Linked DNA regions of Homo sapiens. The protein of the gene in region 5 purifies or fractionates together with the protein of the main gene of each other region. This does not show direct contact. Each region holds a gene or a part of one and is shown on either strand. Other genes may lie near its edges.

Region 1 (4,085 bases), on a different chromosome or scaffold from region 5:
TGTTTTGTCACATACCTGTCCATCTGTCCATCTCTCTATCCATGCAGCAATTCATATTATTAAATGTATTTCAGAATAAGTTGTAGAGATGAGCTCATTTCCTCCTAAATACTTCAGCATGTGTATCATTAGAGTGCAATATTTGCTTAGTTTTTTTCCTTTTGAGGTAAAATTTATGTAGAAGAAAATATACAAATCTTAAGTGTACATTGACTGAGTTTTGACAAATACATACACACATGTAACTCAAACCCAGTCAAGATATAGAACATGACCATCACCCCAGAAAGTCTTTTTCCTGACCTTTCCTAATTTATTCCTACCCTCATCTTCAGAGGCAACAAATACTCTAATTTTTTTCTTTCTGTCATACATACACATCTATTCTGCTTTGCTGAGAGTGTTTTCTTTTCCTTCAAGAATGTTGGAGCCAGGCATGATGGCTCATGCCTGTAATTTTAGCACTTTGGGAAGCTGAGGTGGCCAGATCAGTTGAGGCCAGGAGTTCGAGCCCAGCCTGGCCAACATGGTGAGACCCTGTCTCTACTAAAAATACAAAAATTAGCTGGGTGTGGTGGCGGGCACCTGTAGTCCCAGCTACTTGGGAGGCTGAGACACGAGAATCGCTTGAACATGGGAGGCGGAGGTTGCAGTGAGCCGAGATCGTGCTACTGCACTCCAGCCTAGGTGACAGAGCAAGACTCCGTCTCAAAAAAACAAAAACAAAAGAATGCTGGATTTTGTCAAATGTTTTTTTCTGCATCTATTACTATTATCACAGGATTTTTTTCTTTTTTAATCTGTTGGTGTGATACATTACATTAATTGATCTTTGAATGTTGAACTAGCCTTGCATACCTAGAATAAATCCCATTTGGTCATGACGTGTATGTTTAGCACTCAGTATCTCCAGGGGTTTAGTTCCAAGACCTGTGCAGATACCAAAGTCCACAACAGGGAGGGCATGGAAGCTCCCCACCACCTTACTTTGCTCTGTCCATCTCTTTATCTGTATCCTTTGTAATATCCTTTATGATAAACTGTTAAATATAAGTATTTCCCTGAGTTTTGTGAGTTATCCCAGCAAATTATCAAACCAAATAAAATCAGGTGCGAACCCTGATTTATAGCTGGTCAATCAGAAGCACAGATCACAGCCTGCGACTTGTGACTGACATCTGAAGTGAGGGGCAGTCTTATGGAACTGAGCCCTTACCATGTGGGATATGACATTATCTCTTTTTTTTTTTTTGAGACAGAGTCTCGCTCTGTCGCCAGGCTGGAGTGCGGTGGCGCAATTTTGGCTCACTGCAACCTCCGCCTCCCGGGTTCAAGTGATTCTCCTGCCTCAGCCTCCCGAGTAGCTGGGACTACAGGCGCCTGTCACCACACCAGGCTACTTTTTGTATTTTTAGTAGAGACGGAGTTTCACCATGTTGACCAGGATGGTCTTGATCTCTTGACCTTGTGATCCACCTGCCTTGGCCTCCCAAAGTGCTGGGATTACAGGCGTGAGCTACTGCGCCCGGCTCGATATGACACCCTTTCTAGGTAGATAGTGTCATTATTTAATTGAATTATAGTTAGTGTCTGTTGGAGAATTGTTTAGGGATTGGGGGAAAAACTTCACATATCTGGTTATCTAAGGGTTCTGTGTCGAATATGAGAGTAGAGAGAAAAACCTTTATTTTCCTTTGACAGTGTCTTATCATATTTATAGCTGTTTTCTGTTTTGTTATACTTGTTTCCTTTTTAAACAGTCTTCCCCTCCTCTTTTGCCCTCTCTGGTTTTAATTGATCATGTGATATGATTTAATTTTTTTCTCCTGTCTTAGCATACCAATTATGCTTCTTAAACAATTTATTTAAGTGGTTGTATTACAGTTTGTGCTGTTCACTTAAAACTAGTCCAAGTCCACGTCCAAATAACATTATAGGTCAGGTATAGTGGCTCACGCCTGTAATTCCAGCATTTTGGGGGACTGAGGCTGGCGGATCATTTAAGGTTAAGAGTACGAGACCTGCCTGGTCAACATGGTGAAACCCCATCTCTACTAGAAATACAAAAAATTTGCTGAGCATGGTAATGTGCGCCTGTAGTCTCAGCTACTCAGGAGGCTGAGGTATGAGAATCTCTTGAACTGGGAGGCAGTGAGCCGAGATTGTGCCACTTCACTCTAGCCTGGGCGACAGTGCGAAACTCTGTCTCAAAAAACACAAAAACAAAAATCCCACTATACTACTTCATGGAAAATGGAGGTAGTATATGTAATACTCTATCTTACAATACAGTATACAGATTCCTCCCTTCTGCCCATTGTAACATTGTTGTCATTAATTTCACTTACCTATAAGCTGTAATAATCCAATGCATTGCTGCTATTAGTATTTTAGACATTTTTCTATTAATTTAAGAATAAGGAAGAAAAGACTTAATTTACCTTCATCTCTTAATTCTCTAATGCTCCTGTGAATCTGAGTTTTTGGTTTAAATCATTTTCCTTCTTTCTGAAGAACTCCTTTATTTATTTGTTTTTTTTAATTTTTGAGATGGAGTCCTGCTGTGTTGCCCAGCCTGGAGTGCAGTGGCGCAGTCTCTGCTTACTGCAACCTCTGCCTCCTGGGTTCAAGCGATTCTCCTGCCTCAGCCTCCTAAGTAGCTGGGACTACAGATGCATGCCACCATGCCCAGCTAATTTTTGTATTTTTAGTAGAAATGGGGTTTCACTATGTTGACCAGAATGGTCTTGATCTCTTGACCTAGTAATCTGCCCGCCTCGGCCTCCCAAAGTGCTGGGATTACAGGTGTGACCCACCACACCCGGCCTATCTTAACCATTTTAAGTGTACACTTCATGTCATTAAGTACACTTACATTGTGCAACCATCACCACCATTCATCTCCTGACTTCACCATTATTCATCTCCTGAATTCTTCATCTTGCAAAACTGAACCACTTACCCGTTAAGCAATGACTACCCATTCCACCGTCTTCCCAGACCCCAGTAACCGTTATTCTACTTTTGATGTCTGTAAATTCGAATACTTGAAGTATAAGTGGAATTATACAGTATTTGCCATTTGTTATTGGTTTCTTTTACTTGGCATAATGTCCTCAAGGTGCATCCGTGTTGTAGGAAATGTCAGCATTTCAATAATTTTTCAAGCTAAATAGTATCCCATTGTATGTATATACTGCATTTTGTTTCTCCATTCATCTGTTGATGAATAGTTGGGCAGCTTCCACCTTTTGGCTGTTGTGAATAATGGTGTTATGAATGTGGATATTTTTCTTTGAAGTTCAGTCTGTGCTGTCAGATTTTTGGGTTACATACCCAGAAGCAGAATTACTGGATCATATAGTAATTCCATTATCAATTTTTTTGAGGAATTATCATACTACTTTCTATAGTGACTGCACCATTTTACATTCCTACCAACAGTGTACAAAGGTCACCATTTCTCCACATCCTCACCAACATTTATTTTCTCTTTTTTTGATAGTAGTTATCCTAATGGATATGAGGTGGTATCTTGTAGTTTTCATTTACATTTCTCTAATTAGTAATGTTGAACATCTTTTCATGGGCTTATTGACCATTTGTATATCTTAATTGGAGAAACATCTATTTAAGTCCTTTGTCCATCTTTTAATCAGGTTGTTTGTTTTTTGAGTTGTAAGAGTTTACATACAAACATACACACACACACACACACACACACACAATGTTAGCTGCTTATCAGATATATGATTTGCAAATATTTCCCATTTTGTGTGTTACCTTTTCTTCCTTTTTTTCCCTGCTAACTTTTATTTTAGGTTCATGGGGTACATGTGTGGGTTTGTTGTGTGGGTTAATTGTGTGTCACTGGGGTTTGATGTATAAATTATTTTGTCACCCAGGTAGAGAGCATAGTACCCGATAGATAGTTTTTTGATCCTCACCCTCCCCACACCCTCCACCCTCAAGTAGGCCTTGGTGTTTGTTGTTTCCTTCTTTGTGTCCATGTGTACTGGATAGAGTTTGAATACATGTCCCCACCAAGTCTCATATTTAATTGTAATCCCCATTGTTGGAGGTGG
Region 2 (4,085 bases), on a different chromosome or scaffold from region 5:
TCACTTGTTTGGGCACGTGCTGACCATCTGTATAAAACTCTGGACTAACCCCCTTTAGATAAAATATTTGTGATCCTCGAAGCATTCTGAAAAATGCTACTATTTTTAATTTCCAAAGAGGAAAACAGGTCTCAGAGGGTTAAGTAACTTGTCCGAAGTGGCTGAGCTGGGGTTAAACTCCTCTGACCCTGCAGGCCATGCTCTTGTCACTGCTCAAAGAACATCTTCCTTCCCTCCCCCACACCCACATTCCCTTATTCCTTCACACCGTCTGTCACTCATTCATTCACCCATTCATTCATTCCTCAAATGCTGTGAGCACAGGCTGGGTATGAAGCTGGGGCTGCATGCTCAGCTACCCAGACACACGAAGCAGGGTGGCCACCCTCAGTGAGCCCACAGTCTCACGGGAGGCAGAGCAGCTGGGATGCTCGCAGAGGGGCCCTGAGGTACAGTGAGTCTGGAGCACCCGCCTGGTGGGGAGGCTCAGGGTGGCTTCATCACAGGGTGACATCCTCATCACATACCCCTTTGATGTGTCTCACAAAAGCCTGGAATGACCAGTTCCTGTGCCTCCGGGTCTTCGTGAATCTGAAAATGCCGACGGGCCCTGTTCAGGCACCAGCATTGAGGCTGTGCCCTGTGAAATTGCAGTGGTCCCTGGGCTGCCAGGGGTCATCACAGGCCATCCTCTGGAGGGACTGTGCAGCACCCTGAAGACAAGAGAGGGGTCCACAGTGGGATACCACAGAGGGTCTGTGCGGCACGTGGGAGGTGACAGGATGCAGCCACCTGGCCTGGGTTCTCTTCCTGCCTTAGAGGAAAAACGGAGCAAATCCTTATGAAAATTCCAAGAATCTCTGGCGATATCTCCAAAGGGCCACAGTTAAGCTGGCTGGGAAAGGTTTAGACGAGGGGAGAGCAGGAGCTGGGGGCTGGCAGGGTCTGGGATATAGCTGCTGTGTGCCTGAAAAAGCCGGCAACTGTGGTTGGTCCAGGAGCTGTGATAATAGCCCGTGAAGTCGTGGCTAGGTGGGAGGGAACATCAGGCTCCAGTGTGACCGTGAGATCACAGCTTTGAGCTTTCGAGGAGATGGGATCACTCTGGCAAAGGATAAGGGAACAAAAGATGGAGGCACTCATAAGGCCTTGCGCAAGTTCAGATGGTCTGCGAGAGGCAATGAGGTCCCCACCTTAAAATGCAGACACCTGGCCCGGGGATGGGAAAGTCAACAAGTGGCTTTTTTTGCAGGAGGACTTTTTGTAAATAGCCCAGAAGAGCCCAGCCTCAGCAGGATGGTCACTGAGGAGGAAATCCAGTTCTATGTGCAGCAGTTCAAGAAGTCTGGTTTCAGGTAAAGAGAGCACAGGGCCCAGACACAGATGAGAGATGATCGACAGATAGGGATCTTCAGCCCTCAGGGTGGAGGGTGAGGCCCAGTTCTCCTCCACCACAGCCCTCGTTAGTGCCAGGCCAGCCTCTGCTTCAATGCCTCCAGTGTCGGGAGGCTCACTACTTTATGGTGCTCAGCCTGCTCTAGTTTGGGATAGCTCAGCTTGTTCTTCCTTATGCTTATGGGGCCCCCATAGGGCAGAGGGTTTTCACTACTTTTTAGTCATGGCTCCTCAGAGAATCAGATGGCAACTCTGGGCTCTTTCTTCAGAAAAACATAAAAATCCACATAAACTCAAAAAGTGCATACATTTTGGTGCATTTGCCCTACTTCCTGATGTCATATTAGGAGGGGGCATCTTTGCTCCACCTCCCAATGTCCCTCTCAAGTGGGCTCCCTGGGGCAGGCGAGTGGCCTCTGGATGGTGAGGCTGCTAAACCAAGTTCCCCACCATCAGCAACCTCCCCAGCCTCCAAGGTGACACGATGACATTCCCTGGAGGGTCCTGTAGGGCCGGCTTCTTTGTGTCCCAAAAGCCAACCTAGAGGCTGCCAGTTCACTCAGTGGAGTCCTGTGTCCTTGCACAAGGCCTTGCTGCTAGAGCTTGGCAACTGCGCCCGACAGCAAGGCGTGGGTCCTGGGCTCTATTCTCTTGCCCCTGCAGGAGGCTTTGCTCTTCCCAGGACGACTGGCTGTGCAGAGCAGGTTTCTGCTGGTGTCTGTAGCAGAGCCGTCTACTTACTGCCTCCCTCTTTTTACTTTCTGATCTCTCCCCAGAGGTCCTCTAAACTGGTACCGAAACATGGAAAGGAACTGGAAGTGGGCTTGCAAAAGCTTGGGACGGAAGGTGAGTGCCAGGTTCAGTGTAGTCTCATCCACACCCCAGGACCCGCCCGCGGGGCTTCCCATTGGCCTGAGCTGATATGACCTGGGCCAGAGCTGGTTGTGGACAGATCTGCTGGCCACCTCCTTTCCCTTTGGGGTTTGGGAAGTGACTCCCTTCAGGGGTTTCCCTAGGATCTTTCTTGCTGGTGCTTCTCTTGGGATGGTAGAGGGTGACCTTGGGGATGGAGCTGGGGTGTGTCCAGGGAACTGCAGCATCCATCCGGAATCCCCAGGTCCCCTGGTGGTACCCCAAGGCAGGGCTGCAGATGGCCTGGGGCACCTCCCAGAAGTGACATGGATACTGGAGCCCCCAGCCCAGAGGAGCGTTAGGTGCTCTCAGAGATGTGACTTTAGCCTTCGGTTGTGTCACCTTGCACAAGTCAATCTCTGAGTCTCAGTTTCCTCATTTGTCAAGCAGAAGATGAGTTTCCAATCTCTGGGTCTGCAGAAGGAGTAATGGAGGTTCCCAGTTTACATTCAAAATGTTTAAAAATCTAAGGGAAATCTGTTCCCCAGTGTGACTGCACAGGTAGCTAGGCCTTCATCAGCTCACTCAGTAGCCATGGTTACCTTGTTGGTTCACTCTGTAAGTGAACACACTGCTACATGCCAGACTTCCTGCCAGACCCTGGGATACCATGGTGTGTAAACAGACCAGGTCTTGACCTCCCAAAATTAAGTCTTGAGGCACTAGAGTATATAACATCGTGGTTAAGAGCAGGCTAGGAAGCACATGGGCTGAGTCTAATCCCTGTGTGACCCTGGGAAAGGTACTTAACCCCTCTGATCCACTGTGGCTTCTTCTGCAATATGCAAGTGGCAAGAACAGTGCCTCCCTCACAGAGCTGTGTAAGGATGAAATGGTTGAAGGCATGTGACCTGTTACAAGCAGTACTGGGAACCTATTAGCTCCATTAGTGTTCCTTGTCATTATCATCATATGACCGATGAAAATGACCAAACTGCAGTTGGACAGACAAAATCTCTCAAAGCGTGGAGGAAAATATTGACAAAGGCGCTGGGAAGGTGAATCCCAATGGTGCTAAGGTCAGAAACCCTCCTCTTCTGCAGTTTATTTTTTGAGACAGTCTTGCTCAGTTGCCCAGGCTAGAATGCAATGGCACGATCTCGGTTCACTGCAACCTCTGCCCCCTGGGTTCAAGCAATTCTCCTGCCTCAGCCTCCCAAGCAGCTGGAATTACAGGAGTGCGCCACCACACCCAGCGAATTTTTTGTGTTTTAGTAGAGATGGGGCTTCACCATGTTGCGCAGGGTGGTCTCAAACTCCTGAGCTCAGGCGATCCACCCACCTCGGCCTCCCAAAGTGCTGGGATGACAGGCGTGAGCCACTGCACCCAGCCTCTCTTCTGCAGTTTCCAGCTGGATCTTCCTCTCTCCTCCCCCACCTCCTCCCATCCCATCCTCTCCCCCCCCCGCCCCCCGCCCAGTTCACATTTTAGCTTGGAACTTTCTAGAGTTTACAAACCTCATAGAAGCCTCAGGATTCGTTTTAGCCACAAAATCATTTTTGACCTTCTCCTGGCTCCTGGTTGTGGGAGGAGGGAGGGGTGTGGAGAGATGCCCATCACTCTGGGTGTAAATGAAAATAGTGCACGTTCCTCAACCAGGGATGGGTCAAAGCTGCTTGGAAATTAGGGTAATGGTGGAGCGAGAACAAAGGAAAAAACACAGAGGCTTTCCTGGCCTTCCTGTGCATGCCTCCCTGTGTTCAACTCATTTGCCAGCAATTGGAAGTTACTTTGCTGCCATTCATGTCACATTGATTACTACTGTGGCTGCCCCCAT
Region 3 (4,085 bases), on a different chromosome or scaffold from region 5:
TTTAAATAATAAGCCTACTTTTTTAGTATAATTATAGATTTACACAATAATTGAGCAGATAGTACAAAGAGTCCACATACTTCCCCTTCATCCCCAGCTTCTCCTATTGGTAACATCTTGCATTAGTGTGGTACATTGGTTACAATTGATGAGCCAGTATTGATACATTATTATTAACTAAGCCCATCATTTAAAGTTCACTCTGTTGTACATTCTATGGCAGGGATCCCCAGCCTTTTGGCACCAGGGACTGGTTTCATGAAAGACAATTTTTCCACAGGAGGTGGGGACAGGGAGGCACAGGAAATGTTTTCAGGATGATTCAAGTGCATTACATTTATTGTGCACTTTATTTGTATTGTTATTACACTGTAATATATAATGAAATAATTATATAACTCAACATAATACAGAATTAGTGGGAGCCCTGAGCTTGTTTTCCTGCAACTAGATGGTCTCATCTGGGGGTGATGGGAGACAGTGATTAGATCATCAGGCGTTAGATTCTCATAAGGAGCGTGCACTCTAGATCCCTCACATGTGCAGTTCACAGTAGGGTTCACACTCCTATGAGAATCTAATGCTGCTGCTGATCTGACAGGTCGTGGAGCTCAGGCGGTAATGCAAGTGATGGGGAGTGGCTGTAAATACAGATGAAGCTTCGCTCACTCACCCACCTGCTGCTCACCTCCTGCTGTGTGGCCTGGTTCCCAACAGGGTTGGGAACCACTGTTCTATGGGTTTTGACAAAGGTATAATGACATGTATCCATAATTACAGTATTATATAGAATAGTTTCACTGCCCTAAAAAAGCCCTATGCTCTACCTATTTTTTCCTCCTTCCTCTTCCCTACCTCTGGTCAGGTAACCACTGATCTTTTCACTGTCTCCATGGTTTTGCCTTTTGCAGAATGTCATATAGTTGGAATCATACAGTATGTAGCATTTTTGAATTGGCTTCTTTCACTTAGCAATATGCACTTAAGGTCCCTCCATGTCTTTTCATGGCTTGATAGCTCATTTCTTCTTAGCACTAAATAGTATTACAAAAATACTATTTACAGTGTTACAAAAAATAGTATGTATGTTCTATAGCCTATTAGTCTGCCTAGGCTGCCATAAGACAACACCACAGACTGCGTGGTTTAAACAATGGAAATTTATTTTCTCCCAGTTCTGGAGGTTAGAGTTCAAGATCAAGATGGCCGCACCTTCAGGTTCTGGTTAGGGCTCTCTTCCTGGCTTGCATGCACATGGCTGCCTTCTTCTTGTGTCCTCACATGGCACTGAGAGAGAGAATCTTCTTCTTCTTATAAGGCCACAGTCCTATCAGATTAGTGCCCCACTTTAATGACCTCATTTAACTTTAATTACCTCCTAAAGACTGTATCTCTCGATATAGTAATATTTGGGGTTAGGGCTTCAACATACGAATTTTGGAGGACACAGTTTAGGCCATAAATTCACAGTTTGCTTATCCACTTACCTATTGAAGCACATCTTGGTTGCTTCCAACTTTTGGCAATTATATATAAAACTGCTGAAAACATTTGTGTGCAGGTTTTTGTGTGGACATGCATTTTCCAATTGTTTGGGTAAATATCAAGGAGCACAATTGCTGGATTGTGTGGTAAGAACATGTTTTTTGTTTGTTTTGTAAGAAATTGCCAAACTGTCTTCCAAAGTGGCTATACCATTTTGCATTCCCGCTAGCAATGAATGAGCATTTTTGATGCTCCACATCCTTGCTAACATTTGGTGTTGCCAGTACTTTGGATTTTAGTCATTCTAATAGGTGTGTAGTGGTATGTTTTAATTTGCAGTTTCCTGATGACATATGATGTTGAGCATCTTTTCATATGCTTATTTGCCGTCTGTATGTTTTACCCTCCTCTCTCCTTCTCTCTTCTCTTTTACTCTTGCTTGAATTTGTGCAAAAGCTGCTTTATTCTGCTTTCTTCTTTCTTCCCTCCTCCTCCTCCTTTCTCCTTTCTCCTTTTTCCTTCTCTTTATTCTTCTGTCAGCTGTACTTAAGATATGTGTATCAAGATCAGAAGCTTTCGTCTGCCACTGTGGTTTCGTTTATGTCTTCAGTCTCTTCTGTGAAGGTTCTCTTGGCTTTCTAGCACTAAATCAAAATCTGGTGCTCCTGGATGACACAACTTCCCGTAATGCCCCGGTGAACGGTTGCTAATTTTATTCTCAAAACCTTTTCACCATAGGGCCTCTGTTGGTGGGATAGGTGTCTCCATTGTCCTTCACTGCTATTCTCCTTTCCTCCTCCCTAAAAATATCTAAGTTGAAATCTCATTTTGTCACAATATCCCATCCTCTACCTCTCCTGATTCCTGGATCACTCTCTTTCACTTTTCTTTTTTTCTTTTAGAGATGGGGTCTTGTTCTCTTGCCCAGGTTGGAGCTGGAGTATGCGGTGGAGCAATCACAGCTCACTGCATCTTCAGACCCCTGGGGTCAAAGGATCCTCCTGCCTCAGCCTCCCGAGTAGCTGGGACTACAGACACATGCCACCATGCCTGGCTTCTTTTTGGCTTTTTGAAAACATTTTGCCACTAGCTTACTGTTACTTTCTTCACCATTACTTCCATCATGATTCTTGGATGATTTCAGTATCCTTAGAGAAGATCCTTCAGATACACTGACCTGTCATTTTCTGGACCTCCTCTTTATCACTGATCTTACCTTTTACCCAGTCTCAGCCATTTGCTTTCCTGATCATAAGCCTAAGTCTTGTCACTACCAATAACATCTCACTTTCAAACATCCTGCTCTGACTGCCTTCGCCTGTTTTACCAGCTTACTTCCTTTAGTATTCCAGTTTCAATAGTTGTTCAGTCCTTCTGAGATTTTGCCATGTTTCCAGTGTCTCTCATTCTCTTCAGTTCATCACGTCCCTCTTACCCAGTTTAAATACCATGGACAGTCATTGTCACTATTTCCTTCCTTTCACCTTTCATATTCATGTCTGTCTCTTTTCTGGTAGGTTTCTCTTGGATAAACCTATTAGTTAAATTCAGTTTTGCCCACTTCATGCCTGTCCTAGTATAGCTGAATCAGCTGAAGAAAACACTTCAACTGTCCTGACTGGTCTCAATTTAAGTGTTGCCAGACCAATCATATTTCCCTGGTCCTCTCACTGTCCCATTCTGATGATTGCTTTATAAAGTTTCTTCTATCTTCAAACCTCCAACATCTCTCCCATCCTTTGAATCAGAAGAGAACTTCTACAGTCTCCCACTACCTCATTTACCCACCTATCAACATGTTTGCTTTCTCTTTTGTTGGTGAGAATGAGTGGCTTCTTGCTCCTAGCTAGAGCCAGTCCTTCCATATGTGCTTTAGATTCTTCCTGTTTTGTTCAAGAATATTGCTCAAGCTATTCTTCCTCCTGTTTCCTGCATCAGCATTTCCCCTCTCTACTAGATCATCTCTGTCAGTAAATGAACATGTTGTTGTTTCTCCTAGAAGTACTGTTTCTATATCTAGATAGTACTCTAGCTAGAGTTAAAAAAAAAAAAAACAAAACCAACAAACTCAAAACTCTCTTCAGATGTTACTTCACCTCTTGCTGTTACTGCATTTCTCTACTGTATGTTACAGCAGAATTCCTTTTAAAAAATGTCCACGTTCACTGACTCTAGTTTTTTATTTCTCCTTGTCTCTTGAACCCAGTCCAGTCAGGTGCCACCACTCCACTGAAACTCCTGTTTTTTTTTTTTTTTTTTTTTTGAGACAGAGTCTTGCTCTGTTGCCCAGGCTAGAGTGCAATGGCACGATCTTGGCTCACTGTAACCTCCACCTCCTGGATTCAAGCGATTCCCGCCTCAGCTTCCTGAGTAGCTGAGATTACAGGCGCCTGCCACCATGCCCGGCTACTTTTTGTATTTTTTTTTTTTTGAGACGGAGTCTCTCTCTGTTACCCAGGCTGGAGTGCAGTGGCTCACTCGGCTCACTGCAAGCTCCACCTCCCAGGTTCACGCCATTCTTCTGCCTCAGCCTTCCGAGTAGCTGGGACTACAGGCACCTGCTACCACACCTGGCTAAATTTTTTTTTGTATTTTTAGTA
Region 4 (4,085 bases), on a different chromosome or scaffold from region 5:
GGCTCCTCGGGATTCATTTCTAGTAATTTAAGATACATTGGCTTGCAACAGGATTCCTTTGTGGGTTTCAATATGAATTATAATAACATATTTATTAGATGGTTATTTTGTTTATACTTTTATAGGTTGCTGCTAAAACCTTGCCTTTTTATAAGGACTACTTCAATGTTCCTTATCCTCTACCTAAAATTGATCTCATTGCTATTGCAGACTTTGCAGCTGGTAAAGTAAATTTCATTTTATTGCTGAATTGTAATAACTTTTTAAAATTTTGTGACTTTTGATGCAAGAGTATATATATATATATATATATCAATAAATGTTTATATTTATTTTGTGAAGGTGCCATGGAGAACTGGGGCCTTGTTACTTATAGGTATGTTAATGATGTGTTACCCTGCCTTATCTTTTCAAATCACTGATTTCAAAAGGGCTTCCCTCCTAATCACAGTTGAGTAGCTTCTGCTTTACGATATGGTGTAAATTTTTCTACCTTCCCCCACTTCCGTGCACATTTCAAGAATGCAGATGGACACCCCTCCCTTTGGTGCTACTGTCTGAGGGTGTAAGATTTTAAAGTGAGCATCTGGCGGTAGTAGCATTTTTAGATATATTCTTGGCTAAGTTTCTCATTGCAGTAGTTTCATAGCTATTTATCCAGCTTGGAGAACCTTCCCTAATTTCATATCTTCTAGCCAAGTTTTTACATGTCTGTCACCACAACATAAACATGTGAGTTGAATAACTTTTAAAAGCAGAGTCTGTCTGTAAACAAGTTTTTGCCTTCTACTTTCAATTGCCTTTTTAGATGAGCTAAGTGTTGGACAGCCGGCTCAGTGCTGTTTTTGGGACTATGGAATGCATCTTCCTCCACCACTCCCCTCATTTAATGGAAGGACTTTCTTCTCTCTCCATCTAGCACAGTAATCGCTAATCCCTTAGACAATGTTTTCCCAAAATTTCAGGCAGCTATTCTATCAACAAACTGATAATTAAACTTGTGTCACATCTTTGATATTCTGTTGTATTAATTCTGTTGGGGTAGTCTTTAATCTTCGTGAAACTTTTTCTTTCCATATTAGGAAATATTTTCCTAATATCTCTAAAGCCTAACTTGTCCATCTGACTTACTGTCTGAATCTTCCCAACTTATGCATGCCCACTTTTATTGTTTAAATTTGTTTCTTTTTTTTTTTTTTAAACACAGGGAGACTGCATTGCTTATTGATCCAAAAAATTCCTGTTCTTCATCCCGCCAGTGGGTTGCTCTGGTTGTGGGACATGAACTCGCCCATCAATGGTTTGGAAATCTTGTTACTATGGTATTTAATATTTTTAAGTGCTCAAATATATTTATCTTCATCCTACTCCACATTATTTTGGCTACATAGTATTTCAAGTTTGGCTGCAACACTGTGCCAAAAAATAATTGAGTGATAGAAAAGTATTATTTTAAAAGGTCCACTTTGAAAAGGCTTATCAGAATCTCTGCATTGAACAAGGGCATATGGACAGTCTTTATTCAACAGACACTTCCTAAACTGTTCTAAAATTTGTCTGCAAGTGGGAAAAGTCAAGATACTAATTTGGGTGAGAGAAAAACATTCCTCTTAGGTGTAGATGAATGAATCATGCAGTGAGATTCCAGGCTAACTGTAGTTTCTTGAATCTTATTTGTTAATCTGATTCACAGCTGAAAAGTAACCTGATGAATAACAAACTGATCTTTAATTAGAGAGAAATGTTTTTAGGAGTCAGTTTTTTCATTGCCTAAAATGTTAAGTTGAAATTTAATGAAATAAAAGTAAACAAACTGCAGAGTGACTGCAGAATAAAGCTGTATTAAAATTCCAGCTGTTCTGTTGAAATCCTTATAATGTTTGCAGTAATGATCTCTGTCCTTCAGTCCTGATTTTTCACTCTTACTCTAAGTAAATACTATTTATGAATGCCAACTGTGTTAGAGCTTGGGAGCACAGGATTTAATAAGTGAACTAGATGTACCTCTGCAATTAAATAACTGGATATTCTGGAGCCAGCTAGATTCCCTGACATTTTAGGCTGCCAAAGAGCAGAACCTGATTTGAATGTAGATTGAGTCCATACGTCATATAAATAAGAATGTAAGACATTTATCAACTATTACGTGTCTCAGAGAGTTTCTACAGAAAGTCAACCCTTGAAAATAAATCTTTTCCTTTTATTTTGGATGTTTAAAATTTTACAGGTGAAAAAAATTCTTTGAAATATAATTTCAGGCCGGGCACGGTGGCTCACGCCGGTAATCCCAGCACTTTGGGAGGCTGAGGCAGGTGGATCACTTGAGGTCACGTGTTTGAGACCACCCTGACCAATGTTGCGAAACCCCATCTCCACTAAAAAAAATAGAAAATTAGCTGGGCGTGGTGGTGTGCGCCTGTAATCCTAGCTACTCTGGAGGTTGAGGCAGAAGAATCACTTGAACCTGGGAGGCAGAGGTTGCAGTGAGCCGAGATCACGCCACTGCACTCCAGCCTGGGCAACAAGAGCGAAACTCCATCTCAAAAAAAAAAAAAGAAATATAATTTCATGTGGAATTATGTGTTGGTGCCTGTATTCAAATATGTGAAGAAATGGCCTTTTCTTCTAATGCAGCAAGTTTGCTACTTTGTACCAAATAATTTTTTTGCTTGGTTTTGAGATAACTTTATGATTTTATTTTGAAACAAGCAATAAATTTTAGTAGGGGAAATGTGTACATTCTTATTAAACAACTTTTTACTGGTTTTATGTAACTATTCTAGTTATTAGAACTGAAATTCCAAGGGCTTAGGGATAGGTTGGAAAATAAGTTTCATTTTATGCTAGTTTATTTTAGGAAGCTACTAGGCAAATAGCCACTTATCACTTAATATCAAAATAATTTTTTTTTTAAGACAGAGTCTCACTCTGTCACTTAAACTGGAGTGCAATGGCACAATCATGGTTCATTACAGTCTTTACCTCTGGGCTCAAGCAATCCTCCTGTCTCTGCCTCCTGAGTAGCTGCAATTACAGGTGTGTGGCACCATGCCCAGCTAATTTTTGCACTTTTTGTAGAGACAAGGTTTCACTGTATTGCCTTTTGTAGAGACAGGGTTTCACTTTGTTGCCTAAACTGGTCTCAAACTCCTGGGCTCAAGCAATCCTCCCACCTCAGCCTCCCAAAGTGCTGGGATTACAGGCATGAGCTACCACACCTGGCCTTTTCTGGGGGGACTGGTTGGGGATGGAGAATGGGATCTCACTTTGTCACCCAAGCCGGAGTGCAGTGGCACAATCATGGGTCAGTGCAGCTTCATCTTCCTGGGCTTATGTAATCCTCTTGCCTCAGCCTCCCAAGTAGCTGGGACCACAGGTGTGTGTCACCATGACCAGCTAATTTTTTTTTACTTTTTAATTTTTTTAGAGATGGAGTCTCACTATGTTGCCCAGGCTTATCTCAAACTCCTGGGCTCAAGTGATCTTCCTGCCTTGACCTCCCAGAGTATTGGCATTACAGGAGCAAGCCATTGTGCCTGGCCTGCTTTCTTTTACTAATAGGCTTAATCAACTTTAATAAAATTTAGATTAAGATCTTTCAAATTTTTTTAAAATTGATTTTATCTGTCACTCATATTCTTTGTCCATTCCATTTACTATGCATTCTTATTTAACAGGTGATAATTTTATATTCCATAAGTGCTTAAACACCATTCATTACTGAACTGCATTTTTGTTTAATTTCACATAATTTTTATATAAGCAGTACTCTTTCTCAGTTTCTCTTGAACATTCAACTCATTAGTGAGTGGTTTTCCCCTGTCATTTCCATTTTTCTTTATTTGGCTCTGATAGTTTTCTGTTTTTGTTTTTCAGAGATAATCCTTTACTATACTAAATTCTACATGATTATATTTTCCACCTCTATTTGCCTATATTTATCTGTTGTCTTTTCCTTTTCCATATATGGGCTTTTTTTTTCCCTCTTCTTCCTTTTCTACCTTTGGTATTTAAAAAGTTACTTAGGACTGAATGCACTGGCTTACGCGTGTAATCCCAGCACTTTGGCAGGCTGAGGCGGGAGG
Region 5 (4,085 bases):
TGAGTATTTTTCTCCATGATGCCGGGTTACCTCCCACCACCATTTGGTCAGTTGAGAAGTCTTGGAAGAAATAAGGGATGATGAGCCTGACAGGGAGGTTTTGGGAGAAGAAAGAGGGAAGACATGGCCACTGTTGCTCCTGATGGAAGGTTATTTGTGGGTAGAGAGAGCAGGTTTGTTCTTTGTGGCTGCAGGGGAGATGGGGTAGACAGATCAGAAAGTTTGAGGGAGGCACATTTAGATCAGTAAAAGAAAGAACTTTCTAAAGTCACTTGAGAATGAAAAGCCATTTAGTTAGTGCAAGAAATGAAATGTCTCCACCACAGAGCCTCTGTTAGGAATAGCATTTTAGTTTTGAATCCTCAGAGGAGATACTGCTCCAAAATCCCTTATAGTCATGAGAGTATTAGAGTCTAGAGCTTGGCATTTAGAGAATGAGGCCTTAACAGTTACCAGAACAGAGGTATTTTCTAGATCTCAGCTAACATCCCCTCTGCAACACATGGAAGCATCTGGATGGTTTCCGTACAGGACCTAAAGAAGTGCTGTCTCTTCTGGGTAGAATGGAGAAAAATGTGGCCACCCTCAAGTTTCCATGGGTTACATTCCAAGACTATTGTTCTTTGTTTTAGAATGTGGATCTCATTGTCCCAAACTGGCAAGAAGTTCCTGCCTATTAACTTCTCCCATTGCAGAGGGAGTAGGAAGGAGGGGGAGGAGGCGACAGAGGAGGAAGAGGAGAGATTGGGTTTAGGGAAAAAAATAATTTTAGAATATCAGGGATTGAAGGGACCTTGAAGATGATCTGGTTTGGCATTGCCCAAACTTAACTAGTTAGCCCATCACCTTAGTTGAATCACTTTGCAAAAACTTTAATAAATGTATTACAAAAGCAGATTTTATATCACTACCATAAATGGAAAAAACTCTGTGTACCTTTGTCATAAATAGAAGGAAACTGTAAAAACAAACACATAAAAAAAACAAAACAACTTGATTCAGTTCCAGCTGGATATAACTTCCTGTGGAAGCTCTGAGCTGGAGGCTTATTCTCTTTTTGTTAAAAAAGGAGATAGATGAGTATAAAGGAGGTGTTTAAGACATCTTGGCACCAAACTGAGACTTTCTTCTCATATAAGCAGAATTGAAAGAATATTAAATGGAACCAACCTCCTCATGTTTTTCACTATCATTTAACTTGTACCATCTAACATTATCTTGCACATATCAGGAATTCAGAAGGAAATCTCCATAAGGAAGTCTCACCCTCACTGAACTCTCAATCTCTCCTCCCCATAGGGTTCCCAGCACCATGAGGGCCTGGATCTTCTTTCTCCTTTGCCTGGCCGGGAGGGCCTTGGCAGCCCCTGTAAGTACCTAAATATCATGTCTTCTTGTTTTCATTCCTACCGCTAGCACCAGGGGTTCTGAGCCTGCCAGCCCTGGATGCTGAAAGGGAACAGGGACTTCCCCATTTCAAGTTAGTGGTCTTTTTTTTTTCTTAAGTTAGGAAGCTCGGGATAAAAACTGGGATGAGGACCATTGGGTGGAGGTATCAGAGAAGAGAGAGTTCCATGTAATGTTAGATAAACTTCTTAGTAGTCAGAGCCTCCCAGCAATGAACTAGGATTGCTTTAGAAGGAAATGACCTCTTTGTCATATGAGGAATTCAAGCAGGCAGGAGACAGGATGTGGGGGATTTCTGGTAGGGGTGGTATTAGAAGAGATTCAAGCTATAGAGAGAGGAATGTGTTGGCTTCTGAAACAGTGAGGGTTGTTTGGTTGTAAGCAACAGTTCAATCTGACTAAATTGGGGAAGGAGGGGAAGATACAGAGGTAGATTATAATATTAAAGGCCTTGGGGAGGACTGGAAAAGGGCAGCTCTAGGCTTTGGGAGTTAAGAACTAATGGACAGTCTCTGAGATATTGCTGTCTGAATGAATCAACTCCAGCAATTTTCACATCTTGAGAGAATGTGCCAAGAAGGTTTTTATAAATTCAAAAAATGAGAGCCAATCTGGCTGAGCTTGGGTCCTGAGCCAGCTTCTTGGCCAGGTGAGAGTGGGGCCCCTTGATTGACAGACAGTTCCTCGAAGCATTGCATGCAGGGACAGGAGTAGTTATCCACAGCTCATCTGGAAGCCTTCACAAGGAGAGGAGGAAGAAACAGGGCAGGCAAAAAGTGCAATTTCTTTCAACCTGTGATCCCCTCATCCTCTGTTTACTAAGAAGTGGGAGTGATGGCAGACCCTGGCAATCTTGATCAGGCTGGTAGATGGAGGCAAAAGTTTCTCAAAGTTGGCATTAAGTTTTGAAGCAGCTCCAGCCAGCTAAGGGCCTCAAAGTTGTGTGTTTTCTTGCTTCCTCCTACTCCAAGTTGAAATGGCAAGAAAAATTGCCTAATAATACTACTAATAATATCACACTGTGAGGAAGATGATGACATCTGTTAAAATTCACAGTGTCATCCCCTCTGGATGTCAATTTTCCTATCTGTAAAGTGAAAGAATTGGTCTGGATCAGTGATTTTCAGACTTTATAAGAATTCAAAGCAGCAGAAATACTTTTCCAAGCTAAATCTTAGGTAGACACCTAGGATATAAAATATATAAAATGGGAGCTGCTTGAGTGTTCCACGGTGCTCACATGACTGGCTTCTTCTTTGTTCTGTCCCTCACCATGGCAGTCCATGAGGCACAACTTTGGGGATCTCCAGTAAGCTGCTCTCCAAGCTCCCCTAGCCTGTATCCGAGGCCACAGGCACTTTGGAGGTGAAGCTGGCCTTATTCCTGACCCCTCTGAACGCTACTTTCTCTTTCCAACAGCAGCAAGAAGCCCTGCCTGATGAGACAGAGGTGGTGGAAGAAACTGTGGCAGAGGTGACTGAGGTATGTGGGCAGTGACCGCAGCCCCTTAGCCCCTCTCTACCTGTATCTGTGCCCTGAGAAATTAGGGCGGATGCTGTGGGTCTCAATGCTAGAGTGGGGCATTCGTCTCCCTGTACACACATAGCATAGATGCAAACCCTGAGTATATCCCACATCCTGACACACTCCTGAATGCTTCCCAAACCTTCAACGGAACCCTACGTTTGGGGACCAGGACCTTAAAATTTTTGTTTTTTAAGCTATGCAACAGTTGTTCTTCCATGATTACCCACAGTTTTTGCAAACGTAAAACAGAGGAGGCCGGGTGCGGTGGCTCATGCCTGTAATCCCTGTAATCCTTTGGGAGGCCGAGGCAGGCAATTCACGAGGTCAGGAGTTCAAGACCAGTGTGGCCAACATGGTGAAACCCTGTCTCTACTAAAAATACAAAAAATTAGCTGGGCGTGGTGGCGGGTGCCTGTAATCCCAGCTACTCGGGAGGCTGAGGTAGGAGAATCGCTTGAACCCGGGAGGTGGAGGTTGCAGTTAGCCAAGATCTCGCCACTGTACTCTACCCTGGGCGACAGCATGAGACTCCATCTCAAAAACAAACAAACAAACAAGCACACACACACACACACACACACACACACACACACACACACAGAGGAAAGGGGAGATGCTTGGGTGTGGCTGGCAGGGGTGGAGGCTTGACACCCTCTTGTGAACATAGATCTCAGTCAATTTAGAAAGTTTACTTTGCCAAGGTTAAGAATGTGCCTGTGACACAGCCTCAGGAAGTTCTGAGACATGTGTCCAAGGTGGTCGGGAGTACAGTTTGCTTTCATACATTTTAGGGAGACACGAGACTTCAATCAACATGTCTAAATTGTGCATTGGTTGAGTTCGCTAAGGCAAGACAACTTGAGAAGTGAGGGCTTCCAGGTTAGAAGTAGATAAGAGACAAATGGTTGCATTCCTTTGAGTCCTTGATCAGCCTTCCCCTGAATACACAATTTAATCTGGCTCAGTGAATCTGCATTTTTACATAAACAATAGGGGAGAGGAAGCAATCAGATAAGCGTTTGTCTCAGGTGAGCCTCAGAGGGATGACTGCATAGAATAGGAGGCAGGTTTGTCCTATGCAGTTCTCAGCTTGACTTTTCCCCTTAGCTTAGTGATTTTGGGGTCCAAGGTATATTTTCCTTTCACACTCT
Region 6 (4,514 bases), on a different chromosome or scaffold from region 5:
GTGGGAGGCCCGAAGGGCTGGAGACAGACACACTTCACACAATTAACTGGAACTGCTTTTTCCGGTTTCCGACGGGGACGTCCCCAGAGGGACTTGATGGGGCCGGGGCCCCGCGTGGCAAGGGAACTCGCACAAACCACCCGCCCTCCTGGGCTGGCCCCCGGTCACCCGCGGGTGAGCTCTGGGAGTTCGGGCTCAGGACCCGGGAGGGGGGTCTGGCAGGTCCCGACGCAGCCCGGGGACAGGGGCAGGGCCAAGGGGCAGGGCCGGGGCGCATGCAAACACCGAGGGGGAGCGGGCAACACGGAGGGGGGCGCCGGCGCGCGCGCGCGGCGGGGGCGCGCGGGGGCGGGACCGGGAAGGGCAGTCACGGGCGCCGGAGCAGCACGTGCTCGATGTAATTCTCCAGCTCCTCCTGCTCCTGCAGCCGGCGCTCCTCCGCCTCCGCCTCCTCCTGCGCGCGCCGCGCCTGGGCCTCCCGGCCGGGATAGTGGCGCGAAGGCGGCAAGGCGTGGTGGTAGTGGCGGCGGCGCAAGGCCGAGGGCGGCTGCAGTGTCCGCGGCCGGATGTAGTTGGGGAAAGGGTGGTACGGCCCTGGCGGGTACACCTCGTCCTCCTCCCGATCCCAGGGCGGGAGCACCTCGTTCCAGTCCGGCAGCTCGTCTCGTGCGGGAGCGGGGGCGGGGGGCGGGGGCTGCGGGGAGCGGACGTGGGTGGGGGCGGGGGCGGCACGGGGGGGCGGCACGGGCTCGGGAGGGGCGTTCTTCTTCCGCTTCCGCTTCTCCTCCACCTCCTCGATGATGCTGACCACGTCGTCCGCTGGCAGGTGGAGTTTGGTGGACAGCTCAATGAGGCTGTCGATCGTCTGCGGATCCATCTCCTCGTCGTCCTCCTCCTCCCCGCCCTCCTCTGTCCCCTCGGCCTCCTTCCGCCGGTGGCCCGGCGTCTCCTCCTGGGAGCGCTTGTCCTCGGCGCCGGCTTCCCCGTCCTCCTCCTCCGCGAACAGGAGCGCGTTCTGCCGCGCCCTCTCCGCCTCCTCCGCCTCTGCCTCCGCCTCGGCCGCCTCCTCATCCTCTTCCCCCACCCTCTCCTCCCCGCCGCGTCTCTCCTGCTCCGCCTCCTCCTCCTCCCTTGCACTCTCTCGCTCCTCCGCCGCCTCCTGCAGCCCCCGACCCCCGAGGCCGCGCTGCCGGGCCCCGCCCTGCAGCAAATACTGGAGCAGCAGGTCCGAGGCGAGGTCGGCCAGCCGCTCTTCCTGCGCCGCGGCCTGCCGCGTGGCCTCCGCCTGCCGCCGCCCGGCCTCCACCTGCGCCAGCCCTTGCTGGAGAAGGCGCTCGCCCGCCTCGGAGCCGCCCAGGAGTGCGCTCTCCGGCCGGCGCGCCTTGGGGAACGGGGCGGCCACGCCTTGGTACGCCTTGGACAGGGGTGCCAATGCCTCGCCTAGGTGTGTTTTGGGGGAGGACACTCCTTCCCCGAACTTGTGGGTTTCGGGAAGGGGCCCGCTGTCGGGCATACGCGCCTGGAATTGAGAGGGGGCCGGGGGCGGCAGGGGCGCGCGCTCCGGGACACGCGCCTGGAACTCTCCCCAGGAAGCGCGCCATACGCGCTCTGGCCCCGGGCTCTCCAGATTCACTCGGGTCAGCGTGTGCGTGCGGGTTTCCGTCTCTGCTGCCGCCGTCTCCTGCTGGCGCTTGGCGCTACTTGGACTGAAATCTCGCAGTTCCTGGAGCAGGGACGCTAGCGCCTCGAGCTCCTCGGAGGGATCGCTCGCCTCGGGCCCATTCTCCGGAGTCTGAGGGCGAGGCGGAGCCGCGGGCTCCGGGCTCTCCGGCGCCGGGAGGCTGTGGGTCTGGCTGCGCACGGTCTCGGTCAGCAGAGCTTCAGCTGCTTCTTCCTCCGGCCCCTGCTGGGAGCCGCTTGGTGCCGGGGGTGAGGCGGGACGGTCGAGTGCCTGCAGCAGCACCGCGGCCAGCGCCCGGGGATCCACGCCCTGGAAAAGCTCTCCCTCGTCCTGCGGCTCGGAATTCCGAGCGCCTCGGACCTCTGGGGCGCTGCCATCCTTTGGCCCGGGCACTGCGTCCCCGGCTACCGGCTCTTTATGCTCAGAGCTGAGAGGAGGAGGCTGCGCCTCAGGGCGACCAGGGGGTGCTGCCCCTAACCCGTTGATCAGCAGAAGGCAGAAGAGGGCGGAAGCCGACAATCTGAGGGCTTTCATGACCAAGAGGCTGCCGGAGACTGAAAAATAGAAGGGACCAAAAAAAGAGGATTTCTGTAAGAATTCCCCTCTCTAGGTCTACGTTCCCTTCCCCCACCTTTCAGCAGGAAACCCGGGGCTTCCCTGATCCCCCAAACCTTACCCAGAAGAGGAACGTTTAGGAGCAAAGGAGGAAGATGTTGTGCCGATCTCTGGAGCCGTGTAAATGGGAAAATAACCCCCGAAGCCCTCGCTTACCCAGGGCCTCCTCGGCCCCTTCCCTGAGCCATCTCACTGCCATCGCCCACGTACTAAGCAGCAGCAATATGGGGGAAAAAAAAATCTCTGCTCCCTCCCCGTAGGACTCCCCGGATGGTGCGTGGGCGACTTCAGCAGCAAGAGAAAAAGCTGCGACTCCCCCGTTTACCGGGGACCCTTACCAGGGGGCTCCCCGCTGTGTTTGCAACACCCCCATCGAGAGGAGAGAGAACCCTCCCTCACGCCCACGGCTGGCTGCCGAGGGTTTGAGGGACGAACAGCGGAGTATTTACCAGCTGGTGTCACGACGCGAGAGGTGGAGAGGAGGGTCGGGGCAGGGTGGGGACAGGGGAAGATCGGGACGCGTCCGCCTCGGCTCCGAGCGGTGGCCGGGGTAGGAGCGACGGTCGAGGTCTGGCGTCCCGTGGGCTGGGCTCAGCTGGGTCGGCGCGGCTCCGGGCGGCTAGCTCGCTCCGGCTTCAGCACGCTGGACAGCGCCCGCGCCTCCACCGCCTTATAAAGGGGAGCGCGCGGGGTCACGTGGGCGCGCCCCGCCCCATTGACGTCAATGTTCATTCATGGGGAAGCGGGCGGCCGCCCGGAGGAGGAAGGACGCCCGACGATTGGAGGGTGCCTGCCTCTCCCGGCCTGCGCCTGCGCGCTGGGGCCTTCGGCTGAAGGGGTGTGCGCTAGCGGAGCTCCGGGAAATGAATGAATGAATGAATGAATGAAATGCTGAAGCGGGCAGGGCGGGGGGCTATGAATGAATGAAGGAGGGACGAGGAGAAAAGGATGAATGAATGAATGGGAGAATGAATGGAAGGGTGGATGCAGAGGCGCTGGAAGGCGGGAGGGTGGGTTGCAGAGCAACTTGGAGCTGCTGGATGGAGCCCGCGTTGCTGAGTGGAATAGAAAAAGGGTAGTCCCAGCGTCTGACTGGGCACCAGTGGGAGCTCAATACTGGGGAGGGGAAGGATAAAGATTCAAGAGCCGACCAGGGGGCCGGGTTCCCCACCCCGAGACCACGCGCCCAAGGACGGCGTGAACCTGAGTGCAGAGGGACAGATCTGCACGCCTGCGGGCGCTGTCCGCGAATCGGCAGTGCGGGTGGCAGCCCCCTGACAGGGGCAGATGGGTGGATCTTGCGGTTTTGGTAATCCCATCGGGAAGGGTCCGAGTCGGAAGAGAAAAGGGAAAGAATGAGGATGTGTGTGCCTCTGGGTCGTGTCTGTTTCACGATCCGTGCTGTGTCTGGAGAAAAAGGTGTGTCTGTCCTTCTGTCCCCTGACTGCCGCTTGTGTCAAGGCCCCCCGCTGTGCCCCCTTCGGCCCATCTCTTCCCACACTCCCCCAGTCGCTTTCCCTCCTGCCGCTCCCCTCCCCCAAGGACGTTTGGAGGGCGAGACCAGAGCAGGTGGGGAGGGGGTTGCGCAGGTGGGGGGGGGGTGACTCAACTCCAGCTCTCTCCACCGCTTAAAGGGAAGGTTTGAACGCGATGGGAGGGGGACCTGCAACGTCAGAGATAGCCCCTCTCTGCCACCAGCCCCTTCGACCGTATCTCCTGCCAGAGAGGTTGGGGCTGGGGGCTTGGACAGCTAGAGGTTCCGGGGGTGGGGGGCGATGACGCACAGATTTGCGCAAAGAGAATCCATCAGAGAGCTGGGTCCGGTGAAGGGAGACCAGCCGTGGGCGGGGGTGGGGGGGAGGACGGAAATGGGGAGGGGGCAGGGGAGAGGAGAGGGTGGCAAGGGGGGCAGCCACTGCAGGAATGAAGGGGAGGGAGGGAGGAAGCCTGGAGGGGGCTGCGGTGCTGGCAGAGAGCGGTGCGGGGGCGTGGGCAGGGAAGGGGGGAATGACAATGACACACGCCAGACACACACGAACTGCGGACATAGGGGTGCTCGTGGGCACACGCAGGGCACCCGCACCCTGAGACTCTGGAAACCAAGGTCAGGGCTGTCTGTCAGGGTCTTAGAGACTCTTTCAGAAACGGTCCTCGCCCCCCTCCTCACCTCTTCCTGGCACTGACCCTCCTTCTAACCTCCCCCTCCCTACACACACAC
Region 7 (4,085 bases), about 16 Mb from region 5:
GAAAAATAATACTGAAAGAGAAGTAAAAATACAATCACACTTCCAAACATCAACCACCAAAAACTGAACTGAATTTCCTGAAGCACTTGGTTTTCAAATCTAAGCTGAACATCAATGCTGTTATTCTTGAGGCCCAGAAGCAACTTGCTCATTTCAATTAAGCTTCAGCATGAACTTCCTATGTACACAGCCCACCCACACTCCCCGATGTGAGAAGGAGAGGGTCACAGCCGCCCCCAGCCTCTGCTGCTGCCACAAGGACAGCAGCAGTGGAAACATTCAGCAAAGGAATGTTGGAGCCACATCCACAAGAGACTCACTGAAGATTCGCCAAACGCCTACGGAAAGTGGCAGGGAATTCATTGACAGTAATTGTTTCCTGCTTGATCAGATTGAAGAGCTTCTGGGATTCTGTAACAATAAATAGGACCGGGGGCTGGAGTATGGCCAGCAAGGACTCTTCAGGGGTTATTCAGGGACTGTCTAACCTGTGAATCCTAGGCAGCAAACAGAAACCAGGTATTCAGAAATCTGGAGGATTTGGTCAGGCCCAGCTAGGACTAGGGAGGCATGGGCCTCTGCTGGCTGTGGTCCCTTCTCCAGCCTTCACTTCTCTTGTCCCTAGATCCTTACATGGATTCATTAATGCTCATTGTCCCTCCTGGGCCCACTCACTTTCACCTGTTGAACAAAAAACTGGCCAAGAGGTGACAGTCATATCACCGCAGAAGAGACAGGGCAGAGAAATGAAGGGGCAGAATGGACTCCCACCCAAAAGCCTGACTCTGAATATTTGAGAATTGTTCAAGTTCCTGCAGAGGAATCATGATGGGGACAGTAGGTGTAGTTTTTACTGCAATATTGGTGTCTTCTTAACAAATACGCTGCACATCAAGTGATGTCTGTGGATGGCATTCTTAAAGTAACAGGGAAATTGATGTTAAAGAAATACTTCATCCTTTGGGTGATACCTGAAGTTCTCTGAGCTTGGAGGTCTTGTGAAAGCCCTCAGTATTGTTTGTTTTATTTGCTTTCCTCTGACTTGTGATTCAGTCAGATGCATGCCTGCCTCTGGCTCAGGAAGATCAACCCTCTCCTGACTGACCACGCCTCTCCTGACTGACCACGTAGCACAGCAGCTTCCTTTCCCTAGGGGCTCCTAATGAAGCTTTCACAATCACCTGGCCTGAGCACAGTTTGGGTCAGGACTTGGTATACTTGAAAAAAACATGCAAAACCAAAATCCTGTGGTTCTGGAAAAGGCTTCTTAGCAGAACCCCCAGACATTTACACTCTGCTTTTTCACAGGGTCCCTGAGGATTCTTTGGATCTGGGTAGTTTGGGGAGCAGTATTTTCAACAAGTTCATTTCGTGCTCCTTCTACACCCTGCCTGGATGCTAGGCCCCATCTAGAATGTGAACAACAGAACAAGGCAGAACACTTGTCCTCAAGGTTCTGTTGAGTGTTAGATGCAGAGAAGAGACACCCCCCACCTCCCCGCATCACTTACAGGAATTCTGTTTGGAACCCAACATCAAATAAGGACCGTATCCACTGTCAGAGGATGGGAAGCAGCATGTCATCTGGGACATTGGAGAAAGGCTCCTGGGGGAAGTGGGACTTGAGCTGTGATCTAAGTAATGAACAACTGAGAGTTAAATGGGAGAGCATCCCCTATCAGGGTCCTGAGAGCAACCAGCCATGGTTTAAACCAGCTATAAAGCCTCGGGTTTATAGGATAGACAGTAACAATGGCTTGTCTTTGGGAGCCAAGCAGCTGGTCCAGGCATGCAGAGCATGTCTGTATGGAGAGCTGCCTGAGAGATGCTTTTGTTTACACTTATCAATTGCCCATGTCAAAGAAGGATATGTACATGAAGTTACATCAGTATGTAAGAGAGATTTTAACAATTTTTGCAGGGGAAGCTTTCATGGGGGCTGATGGGAATCTAGGTAAACAGAACCAAAGTCTAAACCCAAGATATCCCCAGTACCAAGACTGAAATGACTCTCTCCTCTATCTCTAGAAAGTTCCAGTGACCCAAGGAGGCAAACACGATGGGAGTCATTAAAGTGGGGTGGACGTGCTGATCATCTTCCTAATTCTGCTGCTTTTGTTTTCAGCCCCAACGTGTGTGCTGTGCAGAAGGTTATTGGCACTAATAGGAAGTACTTCACCAACTGCAAGCAGTGGTACCAAAGGAAAATCTGTGGCAAATCAACGTGAGTATCTGTAACCAGCCAGGAGACCAAGCTGTATGCACGCTGGCTGCAGTTCCCCAGGGCCTGGGCCAGCCTTCTAGAAGGTCAGGTTGCCTAAAAAGCCATGAAGATGCATGTGCGAACATGTCTGGGACCTGCGTGCTAGGGAGTGGCATTTTTAGGAAGCTGGCCAATTTTGTTTTGCATTTTTAAGGCTGCTGACAAGACTTGGAGACATTTTTCAGGGCTGGTTTGGGTTTGCAAGAAACATGAAACACTGCGTGTGTGTGTGTGTGTGTGTGTTTCTCAATCCTCATAAAATAATACAGATATGCAGTGGAGAAGCCACCAGCATGTGACTCTGGAAAAGAAAGCCCATTGGTGAATCTGTACTAAAGAATGCCATCCCTATCTTACAGTCCTAAGGTAAACACCCCAAAAAGACTTAGAGCACTAAACATATGCAGATTATGAGACAGCATAGCATATAATATTTGCACAGACTTCCTCATTCAAACCCTAGCTCTACCTGGGCCAGTCGATTCATCTTTAGAACCCTCCATTGCTTTACCTGAAAAGTTCGTATAACAAAAGGACCCACCTTATGGGGTTGTTACAAGGATTGAATGAAATAATGTACATAAGAGACTGAATATGGTGCCCAGCATATATCAGTGCTCAATAAATGCTAGCTACTATTATTATTATCACCCTAGATTTGCAAATCTAGACCACACAAGCAGAAGTAAGAGTGCCAACGGGGTGTGGACCAGTGTGGTTACAATAGGGCTTGTTGATGTCTGTTTCAGCAAGGAGGGAGGCAGCTTTTACCCCACTGCCCAGCTCCCTGGTGGAATCAGGTGCATGTTCTAACAATTCTGGGGAAACCTAATCTGTTTTGGCACTGTCAACAGATCTCAAAGCTGGCTGTCTCCTATAGCTAGGAAGATGTGTATGACAAATCTCCTGAGCCACTTGTGAAGGCCTGACCTTCCTCCTGTCTCCATACATAATGGGATGATTAAGAAACTCTAAGCCACTCTCTTAAGCACTTTTCAATGTTAGGGATTTTTAAGTTTATTGTTGTGACATTGCTTTTGAGCAGACATCTCCTCCAATTTAATAGCCAACTGAAAGAAGAGAAAATGCTCTTTCCTTAAACTGTATGTGGAAATAAATATTCCAATGTGTGACCCTGATTATGTTAGGCAATTAGCAATCCTAATATGAATTGAGGGAAGTTGGGATTCATGGCACAGCTGGGGAGATACCAGCAGTCCCTGGGAGCCTGTCCAGGGCAGGTCCATGGCAGCTTGCTCCATGCCTGATTGACAGCCCAGCCTGCAAGCTAAAAGTTGAGTGAGCTAGGAGGACACACTGCCAAGATTCAGCTAACAGACACCCAGCGATATTCTTGCTGCTATGAACAAAAGGAGACTATGCAAATTATACACCACCCATTCTTCCAGGATGCCTGACTTAAAAAATAAGAAAAAAGATGGGCCGGGCACAGTGGCTCACGCCTGTAATCCCAACACTTTGGGAGGCCGAGGTGGGCGGATCACAAGGTCAGGAGACAGAGACCATCCTGGCTAACATGGTGAAACCCCGTCTCTACTAAAAAAATACAAAAATATTAGCGGGCGTGGTGGCGGGCACCTGTAGTCCCAGCTACTCGGGAGGCTGAGGCAGGAGAATGGCGTGAACCTGGGAGGCGGAGCTTGCAGTGAGCCAAGATCGTGCCACTGCAGTCCAGCCTGGGTGACAGAGTGAGACACCGTCTCAAAAAAAAAAAAAAAAAAAGAAAAGAAAACCTTTAGTACTGATTGATTTTTTCCCATGTGTGTATATTATCTACTCAAATTAACAATTAATTACTTAA

Evidence for each region.
Region 1: the proteins of SPARC (region 5) and VPS13A purify together in Homo sapiens (co-immunoprecipitation; one large-scale study listed by IntAct). This does not show direct contact.
Region 2: the proteins of SPARC (region 5) and EPHX2 fractionate together in Homo sapiens (co-fractionation; one large-scale study listed by BioGRID). This does not show direct contact.
Region 3: the proteins of SPARC (region 5) and ATF6 fractionate together in Homo sapiens (co-fractionation; one large-scale study listed by BioGRID). This does not show direct contact.
Region 4: the proteins of SPARC (region 5) and NPEPPS fractionate together in Homo sapiens (co-fractionation; one large-scale study listed by BioGRID). This does not show direct contact.
Region 6: the proteins of SPARC (region 5) and VGF purify together in Homo sapiens (co-immunoprecipitation; one large-scale study listed by IntAct). This does not show direct contact.
Region 7: the proteins of SPARC (region 5) and TGFBI purify together in Homo sapiens (affinity purification with mass spectrometry, with the first as the bait; one study listed by BioGRID). This does not show direct contact.

The regions. Positions count from the first base shown.
Region 1 is NC_000009.12:77,183,909-77,187,993, forward strand, and holds part of VPS13A (intermembrane lipid transfer protein VPS13A), read left to right. Parts: intron 1-4,085. UniProt on the Homo sapiens protein: Mediates the transfer of lipids between membranes at organelle contact sites. Binds phospholipids. Required for the formation or stabilization of ER-mitochondria contact sites which enable transfer of lipids between the ER and mitochondria.
Region 2 is NC_000008.11:27,539,302-27,543,386, forward strand, and holds part of EPHX2 (bifunctional epoxide hydrolase 2), read left to right. Parts: intron 1-1,252; coding exon 1,253-1,355; intron 1,356-2,171; coding exon 2,172-2,241; intron 2,242-4,085. UniProt on the Homo sapiens protein: Bifunctional enzyme. The C-terminal domain has epoxide hydrolase activity and acts on epoxides (alkene oxides, oxiranes) and arene oxides. Plays a role in xenobiotic metabolism by degrading potentially toxic epoxides.
Region 3 is NC_000001.11:161,769,238-161,773,322, forward strand, and holds part of ATF6 (cyclic AMP-dependent transcription factor ATF-6 alpha), read left to right. Parts: exon of another isoform or gene 1-3,378; intron 3,379-4,085.
Region 4 is NC_000017.11:47,586,023-47,590,107, forward strand, and holds part of NPEPPS (puromycin-sensitive aminopeptidase), read left to right. Parts: intron 1-125; coding exon 126-222; intron 223-342; coding exon 343-376; intron 377-1,207; coding exon 1,208-1,322; intron 1,323-4,085. UniProt on the Homo sapiens protein: Aminopeptidase with broad substrate specificity for several peptides. Involved in proteolytic events essential for cell growth and viability. May act as regulator of neuropeptide activity.
Region 5 is NC_000005.10:151,673,416-151,677,500, reverse strand, and holds part of SPARC (SPARC isoform 1 precursor), read left to right. Parts: intron 1-453; exon of another isoform or gene 454-556; intron 557-1,299; 5' UTR 1,300-1,312; coding exon 1,313-1,369; intron 1,370-2,826; coding exon 2,827-2,889; intron 2,890-4,085.
Region 6 is NC_000007.14:101,162,629-101,167,142, forward strand, and holds the start of VGF (neurosecretory protein VGF precursor), read right to left. Parts: upstream 2,942-4,514; 5' UTR 2,746-2,941; exon of another isoform or gene 2,358-2,745; intron 2,236-2,357; 5' UTR 2,216-2,235; coding exon 368-2,215; 3' UTR 1-367.
Region 7 is NC_000005.10:136,031,638-136,035,722, forward strand, and holds part of TGFBI (transforming growth factor-beta-induced protein ig-h3 precursor), read left to right. Parts: intron 1-2,125; coding exon 2,126-2,224; intron 2,225-4,085.